Linked DNA regions of Homo sapiens. The protein of the gene in region 2 interacts with the protein of the main gene of each other region in a pairwise test. Each region holds a gene or a part of one and is shown on either strand. Other genes may lie near its edges. The genes, in order: BRPF3, CHAT, THAP3, IL37, C10orf88, SDCCAG8 and C22orf39.

Region 1 (3,500 bases), on a different chromosome or scaffold from region 2:
AAAATACCCAGTTTACATTTAGGATTTAGTTCCCATTTACCCTATAAAAATCTGCCAACATATTAGAGAAATTGAGGCCTTGTACAAATGTAAAGTGCTAGTAATTTTATCAGGAAAGCCTCTCAAAGTTCACGTCAAGATGAGAAAAAGAAAAACAAATCAAAGTTCACATCAAGAATCTGGGGAGACATCTTCAAATACAACAGAAGACAGCACAGCAAAGTAGTTAAGAAATTAAACTCTTGGAGCCTATCTGGGTTCAAAACCCAGCTCTTGTTATCAGTTCTGTAACCTTCAGCAAGTTACTTAACTTCTCCGAGGCTTACACTCCCCATGTGTTGTTGTAAGGATTAATGAACGAACACACATAAAACTCTCAGTACAGCACATACCATGCAGTCAATAAACACAGCTGTAGTTATTGTCATACGAAGGATAGTAAATTTTAATGTCTTACTTAAAGTATTACAAACTGCTAATACTGTACTATAGAATGATGAGCTCTGAGAAGGATGAGCTCAATAAAATAGGATGCAACACCAAAAATAGGTCTGTATGTTCCTGATTTGTAGAAAAAAGCACAACTGACTCAATCATGGCCTGCATTTCAGCCCTTTCTCCAAGTTACCCCAGCCTAAGCAGACAACCCAACCTACAGTTATCTTATTTACTGGTTTAACATCCATATCCATGAGAACAGACACCTTAGAAGATAATCTTCATGAGAACAGGCACCTTAGTGCTTAGAACAGTACCTGGCATACAGTAGGTGTTCAGTTATCAATATTTGAATGAGTGATCTATAGAAAGCACATGTAGCACCAACCTGCTCAGAAAATCATCAGAAAAGATAAACCAAGGGGTAAGTGAAAAAGGGAGTGTGGGGGATGGGTTAGTGACCAGTTCTTTCAAGGTTATTTCTAATTCTGGGATTATATGATTCTGGTCTAATAAATAAGGTCTTCCCTTATATACTTATTACCACAGTATGGGGGGAAAAAGAAAAACAACCCTTGCAGTTGAAGCCTTTGGATCTCCTATTTTAAACCCTGAAATATTAATACATACTTCCTCCAAGGGGCCCCAGATAAATCAAGGGCATTGCACTGGAGTTCTGCAGAAAGGCAAACACGCCACCTGAATTAGCAGGCTAACCAGAGCCTGGCCTTGCTTGCTCTTGTGGCTCATAGCTGAAAAGAATGCCCTTCATAGAAGAAGGGGCCAACAACACACCTTTCACTTTTAGTCAAGAGCAAGAAAAGGATAGTTTGATGGGTCCAATCCTACCCTGACCCCAACAAAGTGGGCTTCCAGGTACCTTATCTTTGAAGGGAGTCAGGAACTTCAACCCAGGGCCAGGCTAGAAGCATCGTGTAAGATTCTGAAATCTTTCTCTTTCCTGTGCCTGATAATTTTTTCCCATCTACTTCCCCTATATCTCTGGAGGCTGCAATAGGAAGCTAGGGCAACTCTGAGGGTTGGCGGGGGGTAGGGGAATCTCAGAGAAACCACAGCAGGGAACCAGTCCAGGCCAACGAGTAGCTGGGGACCCCCTCAGCCCTACCAGTAGTCCTACAGCCCAGGTAGACTGAATGCCTAAAAGAACACATGCCCAGTCTGCCTTGGAAGCACTTCAAACACAAATAGTCTTCTGGTGCTGCCCTGGGACCTTTCCTCCCCTACTCTGAACCTAAGACCCATTCAGCAGTCATGGGTGGGGCCATGACATTAGCCTTCAGGACAAGTCACTTTTCCTTTGTGGCAGTGAGGGTTTCTCATTTCTAAGAGTCCTCCCCGCCCTGGTGTCTTGCAGAACACAGAACACAGAGCAGGGGCTCCATAAGCTCTTGTGCCTGGAAGAAACTTTAAGGTCTGGTCTGAGAAATCCTCCCTTCAGATAAAAGAATGGGAAGAAATCCATCTCTTTTCAGCTCAAGGACAGCAGAAGAGCTTTGGGGCCTTTGTCTGAATAAAAGGCAATTCCAGGCCAGGCGCAGTGGCTCACGCCTGTAATTCCAGCACTTTGGGATGCTGCGGCGGGCAGATCACTTGAGGTCAGGAGTTCAAGACCAGTCTGGCCAACATGGTGAAACCTCATCTCTACTAAAATACAAAAATTAGCTAGGCGTGGTGGCACGTGCCTATACTCCCAGCTACTCAAGAGGCAGAGGCAGGAGAATCACTTGAACCCAGGAGGCGGAGGTTGCAGTGAGCCGAGATCGGGCCACTGCACTCCAGCCTGGGCAGCAAGCAAGACTCCGTCTCAAAAAAAAAAAAAAAAAGGCAATTCCAAATTTCCTACTTGGTCATTTCATACACCTACACCACACCTCTATAAAGAGGCTATGACGCCCCAAAAGGCAAAGAGCAAAACCAACTCTGTAATGGCTGGGTTGTCTAAATGTGTGTAGGGGCAGCAGGGGACTTTGGCTCAAATGTTAATTTCACTGAACAACAGGAGATTTAGCTTTTCTTATCCTCTAGAGTCCAAATTCAGCCCCACAAACCCTGTAAGCATCAGCACTACTCTTCCTCTCTCAGATCAGATCTGAGAGTCAAGGGTCACCCTGTTTCCTAGGAACTCCCAGAGTTACAGATAAGAGGCCTCAGGAAATAGCAGGAGTGGGGGAAGAGAGAAAAAGGTAAGCAGGAAGAGGTTCAATCTGTAGCTGAATGGAGAGTAAAAGGAGGGGTAGCAGAGCTGCTGACAAAGCTTTGGGAATGTGTTCTTACCTGCAAGCTTCAAATGCCAGTCCACCACTGAGACCCAAACTACATTCAGAGTCAGACCCGCTTTCGGTGTGTTTTCCAAAGCCGTTGGTCATGCCTGCCAAGGACACACACAGTGAGTCTGAGTGCAGAAATCCCCCTTCCCAACACATGCTACAGGGTGAGGCAGCCACCTCAGGAGGGCTCAGTGACGAGTGGAGAGGATGGCTATTCCTTTCCCTGTGAGAAATGGGTCTTGGGTGATAGAGAAGATCTGATCAAGATAAAAGTTTGGGGGGAAATATTGCTGGCTAGGGCAAGGAGCAGACACTGCAATTTCCTTCCCATCCTTCTGCTTTTTGTTTAAGGAAACCATAGCACACAGCTCACTCAGCTACTGTCATTTGGCTACACAGGGAGATACTAAGACTTCTCCTACCCTGGCTGGCTCACAAGTCCTTGGATCTGCTTCTAATTTCAAACCTCGATTATCAGGTAGCCTTCTCTGCCTTTTTCAGGAGCCCAACCACCTTGCCTCTTCAGATAAAGACTCACATAACCTATGCATCACACAGCTGGCAACAGCTAGTTTGATTCTTTGGGGGTGGTGTCAAGAGAGACTAGAGATGGATAAGGGCCCTTTGTCAACCACACCCTGAGATATCTCACAGGGCTAATCCAAAGTGAGGATGGGGGCACTCTTCAGCGGAACTAAAGCAGCCCGGAACTTCCTGGGAGGGAGAGTCAGAACCTGGGGTTCTAGGCTGGGCTCTGAAACACAGGTTCCTTTT
Region 2 (3,500 bases):
TAATTAGCCTCTCCTAAAATGTATCACTTTGAACCTTCATATATGAGCTCAACACAGTCCATAAATCTTATCAAGTTTTTCAAGTCTTCTTTCCCACTTTCCAGGAGGCTATTTCACACAGTCGATTTCATCTTCAACATCCAACTGCCCGCCTCTTATCTCAAGGTTGTGATCTGAGACCAGGAGGTACCAGTTGGGAGCCTCTGCATGCTCCTACCTCTGCTGCCTCAGGCCCAAGCTTTCCACTTCACCCTGTACCAACCAAAGGCCTCTTATTTTCTGAGTTCTATCTCCTTTTGCCTTTGCAAGAATTCCACCCCTCCATTCATCTCCTATCTCTTCATCAATTTCTTTTACTAAATTCCTTCCATACATTTGTCTCTCCTCCTAAAAACACCTCCCTTGACCCTCATCCTCTTTTAGCAACTCCCTCATTTTTCTGCTCCTTTTAGTGTCAAAATGTCTGAGAAAAAGTCGACCATACTCACTGGTTCAACTCACTGACTGCCTCATCGACAATTTCTTTCTGCTGTTGGATCACTTCTGTCAGTGTGCAAGCATTTGTTCTCCTGCTACTCCAGTCTGACCCTCAGTAAGCCCAGTGACAACTTCAGGGTTGCCAAGCCGGGTCCCCTGTGTCCTGTTCCTCCTCCAGCTCTCCACAGCATTCCATGTGGCTGGCCGTTCCCTCTGTCTTGAATCTTTGTGACTCTTCTGGCTTTCCTTTACTTCATGGGCTACTCTTTCTCAATCCCCTTTGCATCCTTCTCTACCTGACCTCCAGGCTCCCTGTTCTTCTGTTTCTAGATTATCTCACCCAGGTCCATGACTTTAAGGATCATTTATGCGCTGATGTCCCTCAAATTTATTGCTCTGTACTGACCTCTCCCTTGGGCTCCAAACATATATATTAAGCTTGACGTCTCCACCCAGATGACCCAAGCACCTCTAACCCAACATGTGTGGCAATGATTTCTCCATCCTGTACCCACTCCCCGACCCTGTTTCCCATCTTACTAAATGGCACTAACATCCACTCACGGCTCGGATAAAAAGCCCAGGAATTGTTCTCGCTTTCAATGGCCTTGACGTCACTGGTCTCTCCATCTTCACTCTCAACCCTGTCCCAAGCTGCCATACTCTTTCACTGGGAAACCGAAATCATTTTGTAAATGGTCTCTCTGTTTCTGTTCCATAGGCAGGGCTGCTCTGGGGAGGGGGGATCTGTGAAGGATCAGTTTCCTGTTGTGTAGATGACACAGTTGGCGCTAACTGGATTAATCGGATTACCCAAGGGGAGGCGCATGTGTCCCCTCCTTTCTGTCGCATTTCCCTCAGAAACAGCACTTCCATTCAGAAAGCCAGATCAAGTGCCATTAACAAATCAATTCTGATCTGCAGCCCAAGTGCTCAGACCTTGGGGCAATCCAGCCAGCCCTGAAGGGCGTGTCTTGGGCCTGGCCTGCTAATAAAGTGGAAACTATGCTGGAGGCAGAGGCGATTATTTTGATGCCTGTCTCTGTCCCTGAAGGGGAGAAGAGTGGGATTTGATTACACCATGGTCTCCCGAGGGAATTAACTCACTGCGGAATGCTAAGTTATTAATTCTCCAGCACGAGGTTAGGTCCGGGAGGGCAGTCAGCTCTCACACCCCTCTTTGGCTCCTGCAGCCCCCTATTTATGACAGCATTCAGGAGGTGCCCAATAATTGGATGAAAGAATAATTAATTGGTAAGTCGGGGAATAAGTCTGGGGCCTGGCATTTTTAATCACCCTTCACTCTTTTATTTAATAAATGTAACTGGGCCCAGACTGTGTTTCTCAGAAATTAAACCAAACAGACAAGGCCCCTGTCCTTCTGACCTTATAGGCAGTGGGTAGGAGGTGGGGGGAAAGGCAGATAATCAGCATTTATCAAACAAATGCAAAGTTGTCCTCAGAGAGTGAGCAACAGAGTCAAGGTAAGCGAACGGGCCACAGTGACAGAGTGTGCGGGAAGGATGCCCAAGGCAGGCCTGAGGCCGGACACCTGGGCTGAGCTCTGCGTGCGGCAAGGAGCCAGCTGGATCTGGGGGAAGACCCTTCTAGAGAGAGACCAGAAAATGCAAGTGGCTGTTAGAAAAAATAGGCCCAGTACATCCGGCTCAGGCCACCTTTGCTGGGCAGCTATTCTCCTCCTCACCCTGGGGGTAAGGTGGGTGTGTCCCTGCTGGGCCTCGGGCTTTGCCCAGGGTTGGTCTGCCTGCCTGGGTACCATCCTTCCCTCCAGCCTTTCTCACTCATGCCATGGGGCTTTGTTCCATTCCCACCTCTTCTAACAGAGCCTTTCACAATCCCACTCGGAAGGGCTCCGTCCCCTCTCTGAAGTCCTGGAGCACGTTTTTGACGCCTGTCTGAAGTGGGTCAGCACTGCATGCACCTGGATGTGAGTCTCCTCCCCATGCCCCCTCTTCCTGTTCCCATCATGGGGCTGCTCTTGGGTAGAGGCCTCAACTCCTTTGTCTCCCATACTCCCTGAGCCAAGCCCAGGGCCCTCAGTAACAGATGTGGAGAGTCTGAATAGATTGCCTGACCCAGTAAAATTCTGAGGGGTAAATAAAGACTCACAGAAGTCTTGCTTCTCATCCAGTGTCTCTAACATGGGCAAGGAAGGAGAGCATTCCATCAGCTCCTGGAATAGGACCAGCTTTGGATTTGAAAGTAGTTTCCAGAAGGGTGATGAAAAATTTTCAAGAATATTCCTGGCTTTCTTATGGGAATGCTTGGAGACTTTCATCAGAACAGTGCCACAAGATAAGGGACAGCTTGAAGATGAAGAGTCCCAGGATGGAGAGATCAGGTGAAAGAGGTGGTGAACCACTTTCCCAGAGGCAGGCTCCATCCCACACCCCCATTCAGCGACTCCCCCAGCCACTATCAGTGAGCGCCACCCACCAGGAAAACACACCTGCTCACTTGCAGCCAGCCTTCCTCCAGCTAACTCCCCCGCCCCGCCCAGTATTCTCAGACATCCCCAATTCCAGCACTAGTTAGTCCCACCAAGAAAGCCAGATACTGTCAGATGGAACACGAGGGCACAAAAGGTGGCTTCGGTGGCAAGGCACTGTGGCTGGCCGCAGGGCATGCTGTGGGCCCTGAGCTCCCACACTATGGCTGATGGGGATGAGGCCCTGGCCCAACCCTAGAGGAGGGAAAGCCAATGGGCACGAGCATGAGATGGGCATGGAGATGTGCTGGGCACTGCGGCTGACCTTTCACGAGGACCGTCCTGGCCTCGGCCCACTCGCTCCTCCCGTCAGACGTCAGCAGGCCAATTGGAGGCAAACGCTCGTCCTCGTTGGAAGCCATTTTGACTATCTTTCTCAACTGAGTGAACAGATCCCCCTCACTGAGACGGCGGAAATTAATGACAACATCCAAGACAAAGAACTGTGGGGTAAACAGGTCAAACATGTCACTTGTTGGGTGGCCCGTGGCACCAGGCCTTCACTCAGCCTTCA
Region 3 (3,097 bases), on a different chromosome or scaffold from region 2:
GACTGAGGTGGGAGGATGGCTTGAGCCCGGTAGTTTGAGACCAGCCTGAGTAAAATAGCAAGATGCTATCTCTACAAAAAAAAAAAAGTGGGGGCCCAGGCGCGGTGGCTCACACCTATAATCCCAGCACTTTGTGAGGCAGAGGTGGGTGGATCACCTGAGGTCAGGAGTTCGAGACCAGCCTGGCCAACGTGGTAAAACCCCGTCTCTATTTCAAAACACAAAAATTAGCCGGGCGTGGTAGCGGGCATCTGTAATCCCAGCTACTCGGGAGGCTGAGGCAAGAGAATCACTTGAACCTGGAAGAGGTTGCAGTGCGCCGAGATCATGCCACTGCACTCCAGACTGGGTGACAGAGCGAGACTCAGTCTCAAAAAAAAGAAAAGAAAAAGGGAATCAGGCACGATCCCTACTAGCAACTGAGATTCTTTGATATTGAAAAGAAGGAAGCTGAGAGGCTTGGGCCTTCCCTCCAGAAAAACCGGGAATCCAAACTGGCATATGAGGAAAGGCGACAGCCCTGCGGGCCGGCCTTGCTGGGAAAATCCCACCTCCCTGTCTCAACCCACAGCATAATTTAAACATTCAAGTACCTGGCCCGGTGCACTCACCTTTTCTTTCTGAGAAGAGCTGGCATTTCCTCTCTCACTGGCAGGGTCTGTGTTCTCCCTCACCTGCTACAAGAGACACACACAGAGTGGATGCAGACCCCAAGAACCCTCAGAGCTCGGGGCAGGCCTCGGGCATCATGCTTGTCCCCGCTGCTCGGCCCACTGCATGCCCCAGTCAACGAACAGCTGCTAAATGAAACTGACCTGAAGCTCAGCCCAACTCACACTGCCCGCTTGGTGCGCTTCTCTTTCTCCAAAGATGTCCTCAAATCATGGTCAGAGTGCCCTGAATAGGTCCCTGTAGAGCTAGGGACCCATCTACTTCCTATGTGTCACCCCAGGGCCTGGCACCTGGCCCCATGACCGCCAGCAAGCAGCAGAAGCGCAGCTCACCACTCGAGGTGCCACTGACCCAGAACCTGCAGCCCCTGGGCCACACTGGGGTGGGGCCCACAAAGCAGAGCTGGCAGAGGCCGTACCCAGCTTCTCCCCACCAACCAGGCACTGGAAGCACCGAGGGCTACAGTGACAAACGTCCCCACTCCCAGTGGCTCAAGTGTCATCTTTCCAGGACAAACGTTATCACAAATACGTGAAGGTGATTAAAGTGTTCATCTATGGACACATACCCCGAGCACCTGGGCTGTGCCAGGCAGCGTCCTGGGTGTGGGGCCTGAAGCAGGGAAGGCAGCCCCTGCCCTCATGGAGATTCTGTTCCAGGGGAGAAGACAAAACCAATGAGGGAAACAGGAAGGACAGCAGGGGCCACAGGGGCCAGGAAGACTGAGGGGCAGGAAGGGGTCGGAGGCAAGAGGGGGTTTGAGGGTCCAGAAGGGCTTCCTGAAGGAAGGGACTGCCAACCTGAAGAGGTTCAGGCAGACTGCATGAGGCTATCTGGGAAGGGTGCTGGGGAGGACAGATGGGGCAGGGGCTCCCAGGCGGCCGCTCTGGGCGTGTTTGCTACGTGGCCGCTTTGTTCTTCCCATCGGCTCCACTCTCCACTCACGGATCCCTTTCCTCTCCCCATAAATCCACCAATGCAGGGAGCTGCTGGCCTGTGGCTTGTCCCGCCACTGCCCTGCCTGCCCACTCCACGTGGGTGCCCCTGTGGCCTATCATGCGATCTCAAGGCTTCAGCATCCAACTCTTTGTGAGCCCTCTCCTGAGCCAGGCCCACACATCCCACCTCCACCAAGGCAAGCTTGGCTCACTGCAACCTCTGCCTCCCGGTTCAAGAGATTCTCCTGCTTCAGCCTCCCAAGTAGCTGGGATTACAGGTGCCCACCAACACACCCAGCTGATTTTTGTATTTTTAGTAGAAATGGGGTTTCAACATGTTGGCTGGGCTGGTATCGAATTCCTGACCTCAGGTGATCCACCCACCTCTGCCTCCCAAAGTGCTGGGATTACAGACGTGAGCCACCGCACCCAGCCATAGAATAATTCATTTTTAAAATGCCTTTAATTTATGACTTCTCTTAAAGCCGAGGTCATGGCCAGCAGGGCCACAGGGCTGTGGACCCCAGAGGCGTGACAGTGCTGTTGTCACTGGAGTTCTTGGCCTTGGCTTTTCCCACACATGCCGCCACCCCCACTGCCCCCAGCTGCTGGTAAACAACGCAGGCTGGATGTGACCAGACGGAAGGTGCAGTGCCCTCCTACCTGTGTGGGGTCCTGAAAGGCGAACACCGTGGGCACGGCATTGTGCTTTAGGTTCTTGCGGTTTCCAAAGGCGCTGAAGCACTCTGGCCGGAAGTGCTCGGAGCAGATGACCGTGTGCTGCTTGGGCTTGAAGTTGCCCCGGCCGATGTTCAGCACCCATTCCTTCAGCAGCTCCGGGCGGCTGAACGGAAACCTAAGGGCAGAGGCACGGGGTGTGAGGCCCAGCAAGGCTGGACCCAGCGCCTCAGAGTCATTCGGAATTTTCACATCACTACAGAGTACTTCCCTGGACAGCTGTGGACATTCAGTCCTCTCGGTTTATTAAATCACATCTAATTTCTGGAAGCTTCTGTCACAGCTGTTAAAGCACTCTTAATAGGAAACCCGAGACCACGAGCATGGCCAGAGAGCCCAAGTGAGCTGCTTCCGATGCTACATTTGCCAGGAGCCTACCAGGAGCCGGGCCCTGTTCTTCGTGCTAGGGATGGGGGGTAATGAGACAGTCCTGGCCCCCAAGAGCTGATATTCTGGAGCGGGGGCACAGTGATGAGCCACACAGATGTGGACGGTGTCTTCTGGGGATGACAGCTGCTCCAGAGAACAGACAGAGGGAAGCCCTGGGGTGGTGAGGAGAGGCAGCTGAAGGGGTGATGTTTGAGCACAGACCGCAGGAAGTGGCAGCACAAGCGACGCAGGCTTCAGAAGGGACAGCAGGAACGGCCACTCACGCAGGTCCAGCTGAGACAGCGAGAGGGAGTGGGGACTGCATGACGCAGGGCCCTGAGCAGCTGGGGAGTCCCTGGAGGCTCTAGACAGAGGTGAGA
Region 4 (4,057 bases), on a different chromosome or scaffold from region 2:
GGTGTCCCCATTCTACAATTCTCCCACCCTGTAAGAGGACCCAATGGCTCCATCCCCCATCCCCACCCTCGCACCTCAGCCACCCCCATCACCTCACCCCGAGGCCTTACTTGTGTGAACAAAATTCATGGTGGGGAGGCTTGGGCCTGGTTCCAGGGGGCTTCCAGCCGGGTCTGCAGTCAGACGCAGTGAGGTTAGCATATGCAATTCGGATTTTCCAAGGATTTAGGGGTATCAAAGACCATTTAATTCCCTCTTCTGTGTATGTGCTGAGAAATACTAGAGCAGCATGATAGTAATGACATTAAATCATAGCTTCCCTCTTCAGAAACATAGAATAGAGATGAACTGGATCACGGGTTTGGCCTCTGGCATGTCACAGGCCTCTCCCGTCACACCTCAGTAGACAATCATTTGGGTCAAAAGCCTCCTCCTATTGTCCCCCATGGGCAACACCCAAATGTGTTCCTCATGGAATACTCAGATGCCCTGTGCCTGGGTCATTTGTTCAGCCCAGCCTTAGAGAGCTGCTTCTCATCGGAGGCTTCTCTTCCACTTGGGAATGTTGGGAGGGAAGAGGTGCATTTTGAAGCATATGCAACCATCCAGTTGGCAAACAGGATGCTAAAGCCCCAAATCTGTAGGTGAGGACGATCCTTTTATCTACTACCTGATGTGCCTGGACACTGAAGCAAAGCTTCCTTTTCCCTTCCAGAATTTCTCTTGTCTAGTTATTTGTCCAGGGAAATTTGAAAGCTCACTTACTGTGCAAGTCAGCAGGAAACAACTGGGTCTGTGCACAGCACCTAGCAAAGTTCTGCTCTAGGAATTACACTTTGGCCCTGAGGTAGATTTCTACAAGAACCTTACCTTCTAAGCAGCACTGGGGTTCATCTTTTTCCCAGTCCTCAGAGCCCATTTTCACTCCTGAGTTCTCCCCCACAAAGGACATTTTCAACGTTGAGTTTATTACTCAACAGAAAATGGAATGAAGTCCAAGACCTAAGGAGATAGAAAGGGGACCAGTTATGGCATCTTCTCACCCCAGGACACCTTGCTGCATGTCTCTAGTGCTGAACAGACCACTGGCCTTGCTCTGTAGTTTGAAATGCTCGCTGCAACCAGAAAGGCACCAAGGGGCCAGACCATGCTCTCCTGTCTATCACGCCTTCAAAGCAGAATTTCCCAAACCTTGAGTCACAGTGCTAACACACGGGGTGCAATAGCATTTTTGTGGATCTTGGCATTTTACAAAAATAAAATAAAAAAGTTAAAAGTGCATTGCTCTAGTCTTGGGGCTGGCACACTATGGCCTTTGGCCAAATCCGGTCCCTGACTGTTTTTTTAAATAAAGTTTTATTGAAACACAGCCATGCTCTTGTTTACATATTGTCTCTGGCTGCTTCGAGGCTACAATAGCATGGTTAACTAGTTGAGAGATCATCTGGCAAGCAAAGCCTAAAATACTTACCATCTGACACCTTCTATAGAAGTTTGCTGAGTCTCTGCAGTAGCCTAATCTTTGCCTAACAAAAAGCAGTTGCTCTGCAACCTCTTTTCATGAAAACCTAAGCCACCAAATGTCCCAGGAGGCTCAATCCCTAATATCTTAGGGTAGGATTGACTCACGTGACTTGCTTCATTGGGAGGGGTTGGAGGAGATATATTTATATATATAAATTCTGCACACCCTATCTCAGTTGACCGAGAGCTTTCAACATCAGCCCAGGCCAACATAGGACAGAAGTGGAGCAAAAATTGGTATTCCCATCTTACCGATAAAAAATCAAAAGTTAAGTGATTTGTTCAGAATCATATCACTTCTAAGATTGCAGAGATAGGCAGTTTGTGTACAAATCCAATCCTTTGAGAAAGGTTTAGGAGTGAGACAAAGGGAACTAAATTGTTCATGCAAAAAATAAAAATGACAAGGAAGGGCTTCAGGACTCAACAATAAGGACGGTGAGCAGGAGCAGGTGGGTAGAGCTGATGGGTCTTTAGGAACAGGGATATCTGCTATTTGATTTTAACCTGTTTGTGGTTTGGCAGTATCCCTGAATACATGAAGCACAACTGCCTTTGTCATGTTGGGGTAAATCAAAGGACACAAAAAATTGGAGGCGCTTGACAGAGAATTTGGCAGCCAGAACATCAGAGCAAGAGATGTCTGGCAGAAACGTAGGTATCCAAAGACATATAAAGATACTGTGGTGCTGCTGAAGGACAGAAGGATGCTCACAGGCTGGAGGACCTGGGGCCATCCCTCGGGGGTACTCATGAAATCTGCTGCCTGTATTAAGATAAATGCAGGGAGCTTTCACAGAATTCCCTAAAGAAGCAGTGCATCTGGCCATCTGAAGTCCATCTCTTTGCACTCAAAATCTGTTCCCAAGGACCAATATTTTCTAGACTCTAAAGTCAGTCTTCTGAGCCTTCAGAGAAGGGACTAGCATTTCCAGGGTTGGTGGATTTCCTAAGCTAGTGTCTGCCTGGCCCTCCAGCAATGCCCTACTTGTTAGTGGAAGCCCTCCTGGGAGAGAGCAGGCTGCTACTGGGGCTGAGAGCAAGGTGTTCTGGGCAGGTCTCAGAGATCATATTTAGAAATTCAGATGTGCTTCCAGTGGGGATAAAAAGCAAGGGTCTAGATGGCCAGATGCTACTCTACTTCCCCATCCATCCTGTTGGCCTTGAAAGCCAGTGCAGGAGGACCACCTACCTGGGCCAGGGATCCTCGTGGTCTGTGGCTCTGTCTTGGACTCCTGGAGCTCTGTTTGCCTTCAGTTCTCAGGATCCTTTACTTGAAGGAGCTAGGTCTGGTACTCATTTGTAATCAACAGTTTGTGAGTGGTTATGCAAATACAACACAAGTATTCCTTTGGCCAATAATAAATAGCATCCTCAGTTATCAGTGATCACTCATTTCCTGCTATTTTCCATGCCAACGGTATAAACAAATTCCTGTGGGGGTAGTGCCACTCTGCTAAGGACTGTGCCACACCTATTCAACACATTTCAAGGTACTTGTGATAGATCAGGTGGCTTCCAGTCCAGTCCAATAATACAGGTATAGAAAACAGAGGAGAGTGAAGGAAAGAGGGGACACAGGGTTTAGATCAGCCAATGAGCCTGGGAGGTTCAAGGAAGCCCTTGTTCTCATGATGGTTCTTTGCCCCAATTCCAGAGTTCATGCAAGTGGAGTCCCCATGTCCCAGAGAAAAATGTCCTCTTTTCATGTTCCCTTCCAGGTACACTCCGGGATGCACTATACCTCTTCTATGTCCCCTCTTCTTCAAAGGTGACATGCAAAAGGACCTTCCTTGATCAAGCCCTCCAAGGACTAGCTTCCTTCTACAGCCCATTAGCTATTTATCTGCACTTCCTTGCATTTTTCCATCACATTTGCCCTTGTCAGTTACTGTGTATGGCTATGTTTTACAACACCACACACAGCTGCTCAGTATGAGGGGAAATCCACATAACCAATTAAGGTAATAGCTTCTGGACCACCACCAGCAGCATGTCAATAACACAGGAACAACAGGCCAGCACAATAGTCAACCACTGTGCTCTCACTGTGCCAGGTCTGGGCTCAGCCCATTTATTTATTTTTCTCCAACCAAATCCTTTGATGACCCTGGGGGTAAATACCATCCTTCCTGTTTTACAGACAAAAGGTGGTGCAGTTTAGAGAGGATGGACAATTTACCCAAGATCACATCCTTAATTACTGGAAGAACTATAACCCAGGCCTTTCTGAGCATGCTGCAGCCTCATCTCTTAAACTTCACCGAAGACTGTGGTCTCATCCTCTAGCCTTTCTTCACATACGCATTTATATAACATACAAATATAGGAGTGTGTCTGACAAATTATTTTGTAAGATACATTTCCTACTTAATGTATCTTGCCTTTTCTACTCAATATGATATCTCAAACATCGTTCCATTTCATCAATACTTTTCTACAATAGTGTATCTAATTACTGCAAGGTATTCCATTATTTGTCTAAAGACCTGGAAAAATGTTATTCCCTTGATGGCTAGAATACAAATCCCTG
Region 5 (3,500 bases), about 73 Mb from region 2:
ACATGGATGAAATTGGAAACCATCATTCTCAGTAAACTCTCACAAGAACAAAAAACCAAACACCGCATATTCTCACTCATAGGTGGGAATTGAACAATGAGAACACATGGACACAGGAAGGGGAACATCACACTCTGGGGACTGTTGTGGGGTGGGGGGAGGGGGGAGGGATAGCATTGGGAGATATACCTAATGCTAGATAACGAGTTAGTGGGTGCAGCGCACCAGCATGGCACATGTATACATATGTAACAAACCTGCACATTGTGCACATGTACCCTAAAACTTAAAGTATAATAATAATTAAAAAAAAGAGTTATTATCAAATCACAATGTACATAAAACTCACTTAGACATGACTGTTTAAAACACTGATTCCTGGACCCCACCCTCTGGGATTGAGTAGATAGTGAGGGCCAGGAATCTGCATTTTGAAGACCTTCCAAAGGATTCTGACACAGGTGTTCAATGGAGTGTACTTGAAAAAATACACTGCCCTAAATAAATTCTTAATAAAGCTCAAATCTCACAAGCTTTTCAAATTCCTTATTTATCTTCAATATTCCTTTACACAAGTATCTAATTTCCTCTTTATCTCTAAACTTGAAAAAAAAAAACCTGTGTGCACTTAGTAACTCCACATCCCAAATACCCAGTTACTACCTAATCCCTCACAATTTGGTTTACATCTCATCACTATTCAAACTTACTCCCTGAGGATCTCCAAGAAATAGCTGATCAATCCAATAGGTGTGTGTGTATATATATGTGTATATATATATATGTATATAGATATATGCGTGTATATATGTGTATATATATATGTATATAGATATATGCATGTATATATACGTATATATATATGTATGTATAGATAGATATATGTATGTGTCACATTACAATGTTTTGGTCCACAATGGACCCACATATGACAGTGGTCCCATAAGATTACAATGGAGCTAAAAAATTCCAGTCCCCAAGTGGTATCATAGTAACACATTACTCACATGTTTGTGGCAATGTTGGTGTAAACCAACCGATTGCACACTGCCAGTCATATAAAAGTATAGCATGTACAATTATGTATACTGTATACTACTTAGTAATAATAATCAATGACTATGTTGCTGGTTTATGTATTTACTATACCATATTTTTAGTCTTAAAGTATATTCCTTCTGCTTATATGTTTTAAAAGTTAACTGTAAAACCACCTCAGGCAGGTCCTTCAGGAGGTCTTCCAGAAGAAGGCATTATTATTATACAAGATGACAGCTCCATGGGTATTACTGTCCCTGAAGACCTTCCAGTGGGACAAGATATGGAGGTGGGAGACAGTGATACTTATGATCCTGACCCTCTGTAGGCCTAGGGTAATGTGTATGTTTGTGTCTTTGTTTTAAGCAAAAAAGTTTAAAACTTAAAAAAAAATTAAATACAAAAAAAGCTTAATAGAAAAAGGATATAAAGAAACCAAATATATTTGTACAGCTATACAATGAGTTTGTGTTTTAAGCTCTTTACTACAAAAGAGTCAAAAAGTTTTTTAAAATTTAAGTATATAAAGTTAAAAAGTTACGATAGGCTGGGCATGGTGGTTCACGCCTGTAATCCCACCCAGTACTTTGGGAGGCCAAGGCAGGTGATCACCTGAGAACCTGGAGTTCGAGACCAGCCTGGCCAACATGGTGAAACACCGTATCTACTAAAAATAAAAAAATTAGTCTGGTGTGGTGGCATGCGCCTGTAATCCAGCTACTCAGGGGCCTGAGGTAGGAGAATTGCTTGAACCCAGGAGGCAGAGGTTGCAGTGAGCTGAGATCATACCACTGCACTCCAGCCCAGATGACAGAGGAAGACTCTGTCGCAAAAAATAAAAAAAAAAAAGTTACAATAAGCTAAGCTTAATTTATTATTGAAAAATAAAAAATGTTTAAAGAAATTTAGCATAGCCTAAATGTGCAGTGTTTATAAAGTCTACAGTAGTGTACAGTAATGTTCTAGGCCTTCATATTCAGTTACTGACTTACCTAGAGTAACTTCTAGTCCTGCAAGTTCAGTTCATGGTAAGTGCCCTATACAGGCGTGCCATTTTTCATCTTGTATACTATATTTTTACAGTACCTCTTCTATGTTTAGATACACAAATCCTTACCATTATAACTGCCTAGAGTATTCTGTAAAGTAACATGCTATACAGGTTCGTAACCTAGGTACGTAGTAGGCTATATGATCTAGGATTCTGCAAGTACATACCATGATGGTTTCATAACCATGAAATCCCCTAATCACCTTTGTTCTCAGAACATATCCCCACTGTGAATTGATGCATGACTGTGTATAATACTTGGAGCCATAAACAAGACAGATAAGTCTTGTTTACATGAAGCTTGTCTTTTAGTGAGATAAACATGCAACCAATACAAAAACAACAACAAAGTGGTCAAAAGGGCACTGATGAAACTGATACGGATTTGGAGGTACATGCTACTTTACACTGGTTGGCTAAGAAAGGTGTCATTAAAGATGTAACATTAAAATGAGATCTGAATAAGAAAAATGCAGATACAGAAGTATCACAGGGAGGGAGTTCTGGCCACAGAGAACAGTTATGAGTGCAAAGGTCTGGAGGTGGGAACATATCTAGATATTTACGGAATACACATATCAGAATGTCTGGAGCAAGCTGCCCAAGGAAACATGGCAGGAGATGAGGTTGAGAAGGCAAGCAGGGCCTACATTTTAGAGATTAAGGTAAGGAATCAGGATTAATTCTAAGTACAAAGGGAGGCAAGCAGTCAGGGGGCTTTGCACAGGAGAAGGATGAGATCCAATTATCCTTTGAGGTCATTCTCGGTACATTGTGGAAAACAGATTGTAGCAGGACAGGTGGGCCAGTTAGGAATCTCCTGAGGTATCCAGGTGAGAACATGGTGTGGGAGGAAGAAAAGTATACATTTCCATCTTTTTTGAAATTCTTCTTTCTGTGGTTTCCATAATCTTCAGCTCTCCTGGTTCTCTTAACTCAGCCCATATTATAATACTGGTACTACATTAATATTTGTGAACCACACAACATCTACAAGGAGTTCTTTACTTGCATTACTTATTTTAAATTTTCACATCAATTCTGTGATCCTTACAGTGTTATCATTTAGATTTTGTACATGAGGAATTCATATTGAAAAAAATATTAATTAACTTGCCATAGGATGCAGAACTAAGAAGAGGCAGGACAAGAGTTTGAAGTCACTTTACCTGACATCAAATCGTTTCTCTTGCTACTCTATCACACTGCTGCCTTCTATGTTTCTGGTTCCTTTTTCCTCTCCCTTCACCACCCTCCGTCAGCTACTGTGGGTACACCCCTAAACTTCCCTTCCAGCCACTGAAGGTTCATTCCATTTCTCCTAATCCTCTGTTTCCAGATGTTTGCAACATCCTTCCAGGGAATGTCTTATTCACAGCTAAAAGTCAATGTTCCCAAAATTAAATTCCTT
Region 6 (3,500 bases), on a different chromosome or scaffold from region 2:
TAATGTATAGTTTCCCAAATAGAGGGAAATTTGGGGAAGGATTCGAGAAACATCAGTTGATGTGTAACTCAACATTTGTTGGTAGAAGTCTTTTAAATTGTTTTATTTTATAAAAAGGACTTCAATTATGACAGTAGTTCTTTTCTATAGTCAATTTATTTTTTATTTTTATTTATCTATTTTGAGACAGAATCTCACTCTATCACTCAGGCTGGAGTTCAGTGGCACAATCTCTGCTCGCTGCATCCTCTACCTCTCAGGTTGAAGTGATTCTGATGCCTCAGCCTCCCAAGTAGCTGGGATTACAGGCATGCACCACCACGCCCAGCTAATTTGTGTATTTTTAGTAGAGATGGGGTTTTGCCTTGTTGGCCATGCTGATCTCTAACTCCTGGCCTTAAGTGATCTGCCCACCTTGGCCTCCCAAAGTGCTGGGATTACAGATGTGAGCCACCGTGCCTGACCTATAGTCAATTTAGAATATCAGTAATTAGGCAGCTTATTCTAAAGAATGATGGTGAGATTGACAACCCCTTTACATTGGGGAACTGTAAGTACCAGTTTGTGATGGGTAGTTTCAGTTGTGACTGTTATCTTGGTATAATTATTAATAGTGCCCCTTTCACTTTCAGATGGGTATTGGTGTTGGAGAATGCATTTATGTCACCCAATTGTTAGGGGTTGCAGAGCCCCAGATTTCTATCTCTGGCTCCTGCCCCGGCAGGGGGTCTGACTTGGGGATGGTCTGACAGGGCTTTTTGTTTTTTTAGCTGACTCCTTTAGCAGCACGGTCTCCAGCTGGCAGAGCCATTAGAACCATTCTCTTCTAAGCACCTTTTTCTAACACGTCTGAAAAGTTTTTGCCTCCTCTCGTAAGACTTAAGCAGATTCTCCAGCTACACGTTAAGATAGCAGCCTTCCTTTCCCCTATGACAAGAGTATAACAACATCCAATCATGAAATATTCACCACCCACTTCCTGTGTGCCAAGCACTGAGGCTGGGCTGAGGGTATAGAGAGATAAAGATGACAAACGAAGCAGACATGTTAAACAATAACTAAAGTGTGATAAATACTATCTTTGTACGATGTACACAACATATATTGAGGTCATTGAGGGAAGAATAGTTAATTCAGGAGAGAGGAAGGAGAGGGGAAGAATTTTGAGTTAGGCCTGAAGCGGGTAGTTGTATGTATACATCTTACAGGGGGATTGAGTGGGCAGGTGGAGGGGCTTTCCAGGAAGAGGAAGAGACATGTGCAGTGATCCATGGCCAGAAAATACATGGTGTGACTGGGGAGGCAAAAAGTAGCCTAGTCTGACTATCCATTTGTTGTATATACTGGTTTGGAACCGAGTGCGACGCAAGACCTTGGACCACATCCCGGGGGGAGGTGTTGTTATTAGAAGTACCAGACAGGACCTTATTTCACATTTAGCATGGACCCCCGATGATTCCATTTGAGTGAGGTGTGGGTGTATTTTCATTCCAGAATTTTATACTACAACATGACCACATGCATTGACCAATTTTAATACAGGCTTTCCTTATGTTGCTTTATAATTAGAAGCCAGTGAATTGAAGTTCCACAGCGGTACATAGACTAGTAGTGATAGCTTTATGGAATTGTTTATTTTTAGTTTGGCAAAGGCTAAGCAGTAAATATCTCAATTAGTAAACTAAAGCAGCATGGATGAGAAATGCCCGCAAGGAGATCAGGAGTTAGAAATAACTAAGTCAGTTAATTGAAGGAAACCCTAATATCACTTACCCATATTTAGAGTTTGAAGAACCATTCTAATATGTGTGTGTGTGTGTGTGTGTGTGTGTGTGCACATGTACATGCACACACACACTGTCAGTATCCACAGTGCTGCCAGCATTGAGGTCCTTTGCATTCCCCAGGTTCTAATTGTTTAGGAAGTTTCTCTCTTTGGAGCCACTGTGCTTGGTTATTGACCCAGTGGGATAGGTCAGTGTCCTATCACAGTACGATGGGTTGTTGTCTGACTACAGAAGCTTTTCATCCTGCAATTTCTTTCAATGTGACCCACGAGGGATTTTATTATGAAGTGCTGGGGGAAGTTATTCGTATTCATATTTGTATTCATATTCACATTATATGGCCTGATGTGTGAAGATATTTAGTGAAAACATGAATGTGGCACTGCAGAATCATTTACTCGCCTCTAGATAGAGGCTCCTGCATTATATTTAAGATTCCATTTTAAGTTTAGAGTGAAAACAGAGGTGGTCTACAAAGCTTAGTTTTAAGAATTTAAGTTTTGTTCCTAGAGTTCCAGTATCTCTGGGAAAGATTGACCACTCAGAAGATGAAACATTCATTGATAGTGTAAAACATTAAGAATATTAGAGAAAAAAGTTTTGTGTTTTAAAGTTACAAAATACCATTATTTAGTTGTTATGATGTTTTGACACTGCACACTTTAGTCCATTTGGATTCATGGCACGTATTTAACACTGTATGGAAGGTTGTTTGGATCTTCCCCCTAAAGTGGGGGAGGGTCATTAGAAAGGTCCTTGTCTTCTTATGCTTAACAATTTACTACGTATCAGCTCTCTCTGGTCTATAGGGGACATGATGGGGGTTTGTGCATCTGCAGATTAAATTTCTGTATGTCTCCTCTCTGTTTTGCAGACAGGAAAAAGATAGCATTCAGCAGAGCTTTAGCAAGGAAGCAAAGGCCCAAGCCCTTCAGGCCCAGCAAAGAGAGCAGGAGCTGACACAGAAGATACAGCAAATGGAGGCCCAGCATGACAAAACTGGTAGGTGGTAGGGAAAGATTAGAGCCTGGGCACTAGCTCACAAGTCAGGCCCACGCCTTACTGTGAAATGACATCAGGAACACCTGTAACCTTTGGCTGGCCGAAGGGAGCAGATGCTAACTACACCGGAGATTCCGAATTACATATTAGTTAGCGTTTAAAAGAGAAAATGGAAAGTATTGCCCACTGTCTGTTGATTTCAGAGTGCTGCTCTCACATCTGTTGCACCATCTGGATTATGAGTTTATTTACCTGTGTTCAAGAAACGTAAAGCTGAGAGAGACCACAACAAAGTAGAAAAACAAAGGGCTTGTTTTTGGCTGGGTTTTCAGGCACACATGTTATATAAAGAAAATAGCATCAGAAGCTCTGCGGGAAATGCTCTGAGCTTACAGTTAGAGTCTCCTGAATAGCATTGAACAGTTCCCACAGTACACACATTATAGCTACTCTAAAAGCCTAATGAGTTTGCTTCAGCATCCAAACTGGAGAAAAGCTTTAGCCATTAATCGGTTCTTAATTCACTGTCGCAGCTGGATGTAATTCAGTGGCTCCAAATTGATATGTTCCTTTATTTAATCTTTGCAGCTTCGAACATTTTTAGCATTTGTATGATTTCCCCACCTCCCCCAACCCAATCTAGAGTGATGTTTAATCCTTTGCATTCTTCAAGTTCTCACAACTGCTGTTAAAATTCACTAATACAAGGCA
Region 7 (2,163 bases), on a different chromosome or scaffold from region 2:
ATAAAAATGTTGCCTAAGGATTCTAAGTCCTTTGGCCCCACCTGAGACAAATGCTGAATGGAACCACTTTTCATGACCTCCACTGCTGCCTCTGAGGTCCACGTCATCGTCAGTTTTTGCCTGTTCTATTGCAGTGGCCAACTGATCTAACCACCCCATCCCTTCTCCACACAGCAGCCAGAGGTCTCTAGAACCAGGTCAGGTCAGGTCTTTGGCTACCTGCCACCCAGAGAATCGCATACCCAGATTCCTGATCACAGCTCACAGCACCCGCTCTGGTCAAAACATGGTGTCAGGTCCCTTTGCCTTTGTGGGTCCCTTTCTCTGCCTGACAGGAGTTGAGCCTCTTCACCCAGGTCTGGGCTCAGACACTGAGGCCTTCCCCACCTCCCCGCCCAAGGTAAGTGTCCAGCACAGGTGCTTGATAGCAGTGTTTTTTTTTAAACAGTAGGTTTCATCTGTTAGGTTGTAAAATCAGTTTGGTAGGTCATGGCCGACAGTTTGTTTTCAACTTTTTATTTTGAAGTAATTATAGATTCACAGGAGGTTGCATAGGAGGTTGTCTAGGGAGGTCCTGGGTACCCTTGCCCCAGCCTCCCCCAATGTTAACACCTTATACACTACAGCACAGCATCAGGACGCAGAAATTGACATTGGTACAGTCTACAGAACATACTCAGTTTCCCCAGTTACATCTGTACTCCTTTGTGTACCTAACTCTACACAATTTTAACTTCATGTATAGCCCTGTGTAACCACCAGTCAGGCTGACAGATGGTTTTCAACACCACAGGACTCCCTCGTATGAACCACCCCCTCACCATCCCTAACCTAAACCCCTGGTAACCTTTAATCTGTTTTCCATCTCTATAATTACATTATTTCACCAATGTTACATAAATGGAATCCTGCTACATGTATGTTTTCAAGATTGGCTGTTTTTGCTCTGAAGAATTTCCTTGAGTTTCATCTGAGTTGCTGTGTGTACAGCAGTTACTGAAAATGGCACTATATCACATACAGTACGGATACATATTGTTTTGTATTTCAACAATAATATGCTATATATAACAGTCTATGCCAGATAATAATGTAAAATACTTATTATTAATATGGGGTTTTATCCAAAACATTTATTTTTATTTTTAAAACATTTATTTAGAGATGGGGTCTTGCTCTGTTGCCCAGGCTGGAGTGCAGTGGCACGATCATAGCTGACTGCAACCTCAAACTCCTATCCTCAAGTGATTCTTCTGCCTCAGCCTCCCAAGTAGCTGAGATTACAGGTGTGAGCCACCACACTTAGCACCTGTCCAAAAAGTTTGAAAGATATTGCTCTTATTACAGTATTTGTTTTCTTCATACCACCACCATAAAATACCAAACTGCTTCAGAAATTACCACCATTTTATTTTTATTTATTTTGAGACAGGATATTGCTCTGTCACCCAGGTTGAAGTGCAGTGGGGCACAATCATGGCTCACTGCAGCCTCAAACTCCTGGGCTCAAACAATCCTCCTATCTCAGCCTCCGAAGTAGCTGGAACTACAAATGCACGCCACCATGCATAGCTCATTTATTTTTTGTAGAGATGGGGTCTTGTTACGTTGCCCAGGCTGGTCTCGAACTCCTGGGCTCAAGCAATCCTCCCACCTCAGCCTCCCAAAGTGCTGGGATAACAGCCGTGAGCCACCACATCCAGCCACCGTTTTAAATTCCTATTTATTGATGTTTAATGTCTGTCTTTTACCCAAACTACAACAGAAACTCTTTGAAGACAACTTGTCTGTTTCAAAACTGTGGTCTTATAAGCCTCAAACCCTGTCCAACATGTGGACACTCAGATGTTGTGAAGCAATTGACATAGAAACAAATGCAGGAACATCCTGTCCAGAGAGATTATCTGTTGATGTGGAACTTGAGTAGTGAAGGAGGAGGCAAAACATGATAGTCACACTACAGAGGCAGGACTTAATGCTTCCTAACAGAGCATGCAGCCGCACAATGCATACCTTGCTAAACAAGCAGGTGGCAGGGAGCGTGGCTGCACTGAGGGGAAGCCCCTCATGGACTGGGGTGCTGGCTGGCATGCCCTGGCTTTTGCTGCACTCTCCAGCTCTGCCCCAGGAACCTGAAGGCAGCTGCTGCAATCCCAGGCATCA

The links.
Region 1: the proteins of CHAT (region 2) and BRPF3 interact in binary tests that used the Homo sapiens proteins (3 or more experiments, as listed by UniProt).
Region 3: the proteins of CHAT (region 2) and THAP3 interact in binary tests that used the Homo sapiens proteins (3 or more experiments, as listed by UniProt).
Region 4: the proteins of CHAT (region 2) and IL37 interact in binary tests that used the Homo sapiens proteins (3 or more experiments, as listed by UniProt).
Region 5: the proteins of CHAT (region 2) and C10orf88 interact in binary tests that used the Homo sapiens proteins (3 or more experiments, as listed by UniProt).
Region 6: the proteins of CHAT (region 2) and SDCCAG8 interact in binary tests that used the Homo sapiens proteins (3 or more experiments, as listed by UniProt).
Region 7: the proteins of CHAT (region 2) and C22orf39 interact in binary tests that used the Homo sapiens proteins (3 or more experiments, as listed by UniProt).

What each region holds. Positions count from the first base shown.
Region 1 is NC_000006.12:36,217,244-36,220,743, reverse strand, and holds part of BRPF3 (bromodomain and PHD finger-containing protein 3), read right to left. Parts: intron 2,828-3,500; coding exon 2,734-2,827; intron 1-2,733. UniProt on the Homo sapiens protein: Scaffold subunit of various histone acetyltransferase (HAT) complexes, such as the MOZ/MORF and HBO1 complexes, which have a histone H3 acetyltransferase activity.
Region 2 is NC_000010.11:49,627,537-49,631,036, reverse strand, and holds part of CHAT (choline O-acetyltransferase), read right to left. Parts: intron 3,430-3,500; coding exon 3,252-3,429; intron 1-3,251. UniProt on the Homo sapiens protein: Catalyzes the reversible synthesis of acetylcholine (ACh) from acetyl CoA and choline at cholinergic synapses.
Region 3 is NC_000001.11:6,627,868-6,630,964, reverse strand, and holds part of THAP3 (THAP domain-containing protein 3), read right to left. Parts: intron 2,467-3,097; coding exon 2,274-2,466; intron 1,323-2,273; coding exon of another isoform or gene 1,241-1,322; intron 678-1,240; coding exon 612-677; intron 1-611. UniProt on the Homo sapiens protein: Component of a THAP1/THAP3-HCFC1-OGT complex that is required for the regulation of the transcriptional activity of RRM1.
Region 4 is NC_000002.12:112,909,908-112,913,964, reverse strand, and holds the start of IL37 (interleukin-37), read right to left. Parts: upstream 2,801-4,057; 5' UTR 2,717-2,800; intron 1,003-2,716; 5' UTR 953-1,002; coding exon 871-952; intron 174-870; coding exon 111-173; intron 1-110. UniProt on the Homo sapiens protein: Immune regulatory cytokine that acts as a suppressor of innate inflammatory and immune responses involved in curbing excessive inflammation.
Region 5 is NC_000010.11:122,944,228-122,947,727, forward strand, and holds part of C10orf88 (ATPase PAAT), read right to left. Parts: intron 1-3,500. UniProt on the Homo sapiens protein: ATPase that regulates mitochondrial ABC transporters ABCB7, ABCB8/MITOSUR and ABCB10. Regulates mitochondrial ferric concentration and heme biosynthesis and plays a role in the maintenance of mitochondrial homeostasis and cell survival.
Region 6 is NC_000001.11:243,413,041-243,416,540, forward strand, and holds part of SDCCAG8 (serologically defined colon cancer antigen 8), read left to right. Parts: intron 1-2,661; coding exon 2,662-2,789; intron 2,790-3,500. UniProt on the Homo sapiens protein: Plays a role in the establishment of cell polarity and epithelial lumen formation. Also plays an essential role in ciliogenesis and subsequent Hedgehog signaling pathway that requires the presence of intact primary cilia for pathway activation.
Region 7 is NC_000022.11:19,440,386-19,442,548, forward strand, and holds the end of C22orf39 (synaptic plasticity regulator PANTS), read right to left. Parts: 3' UTR 1,310-2,163; coding exon of another isoform or gene 1,259-1,309; 3' UTR 501-1,258; downstream 1-500. UniProt on the Homo sapiens protein: Negatively regulates long-term potentiation and modulates adult synaptic plasticity. Stabilizes the interaction of RTN4 isoform A/Nogo-A with its receptors, inhibiting clustering of postsynaptic AMPA receptors at synaptic sites.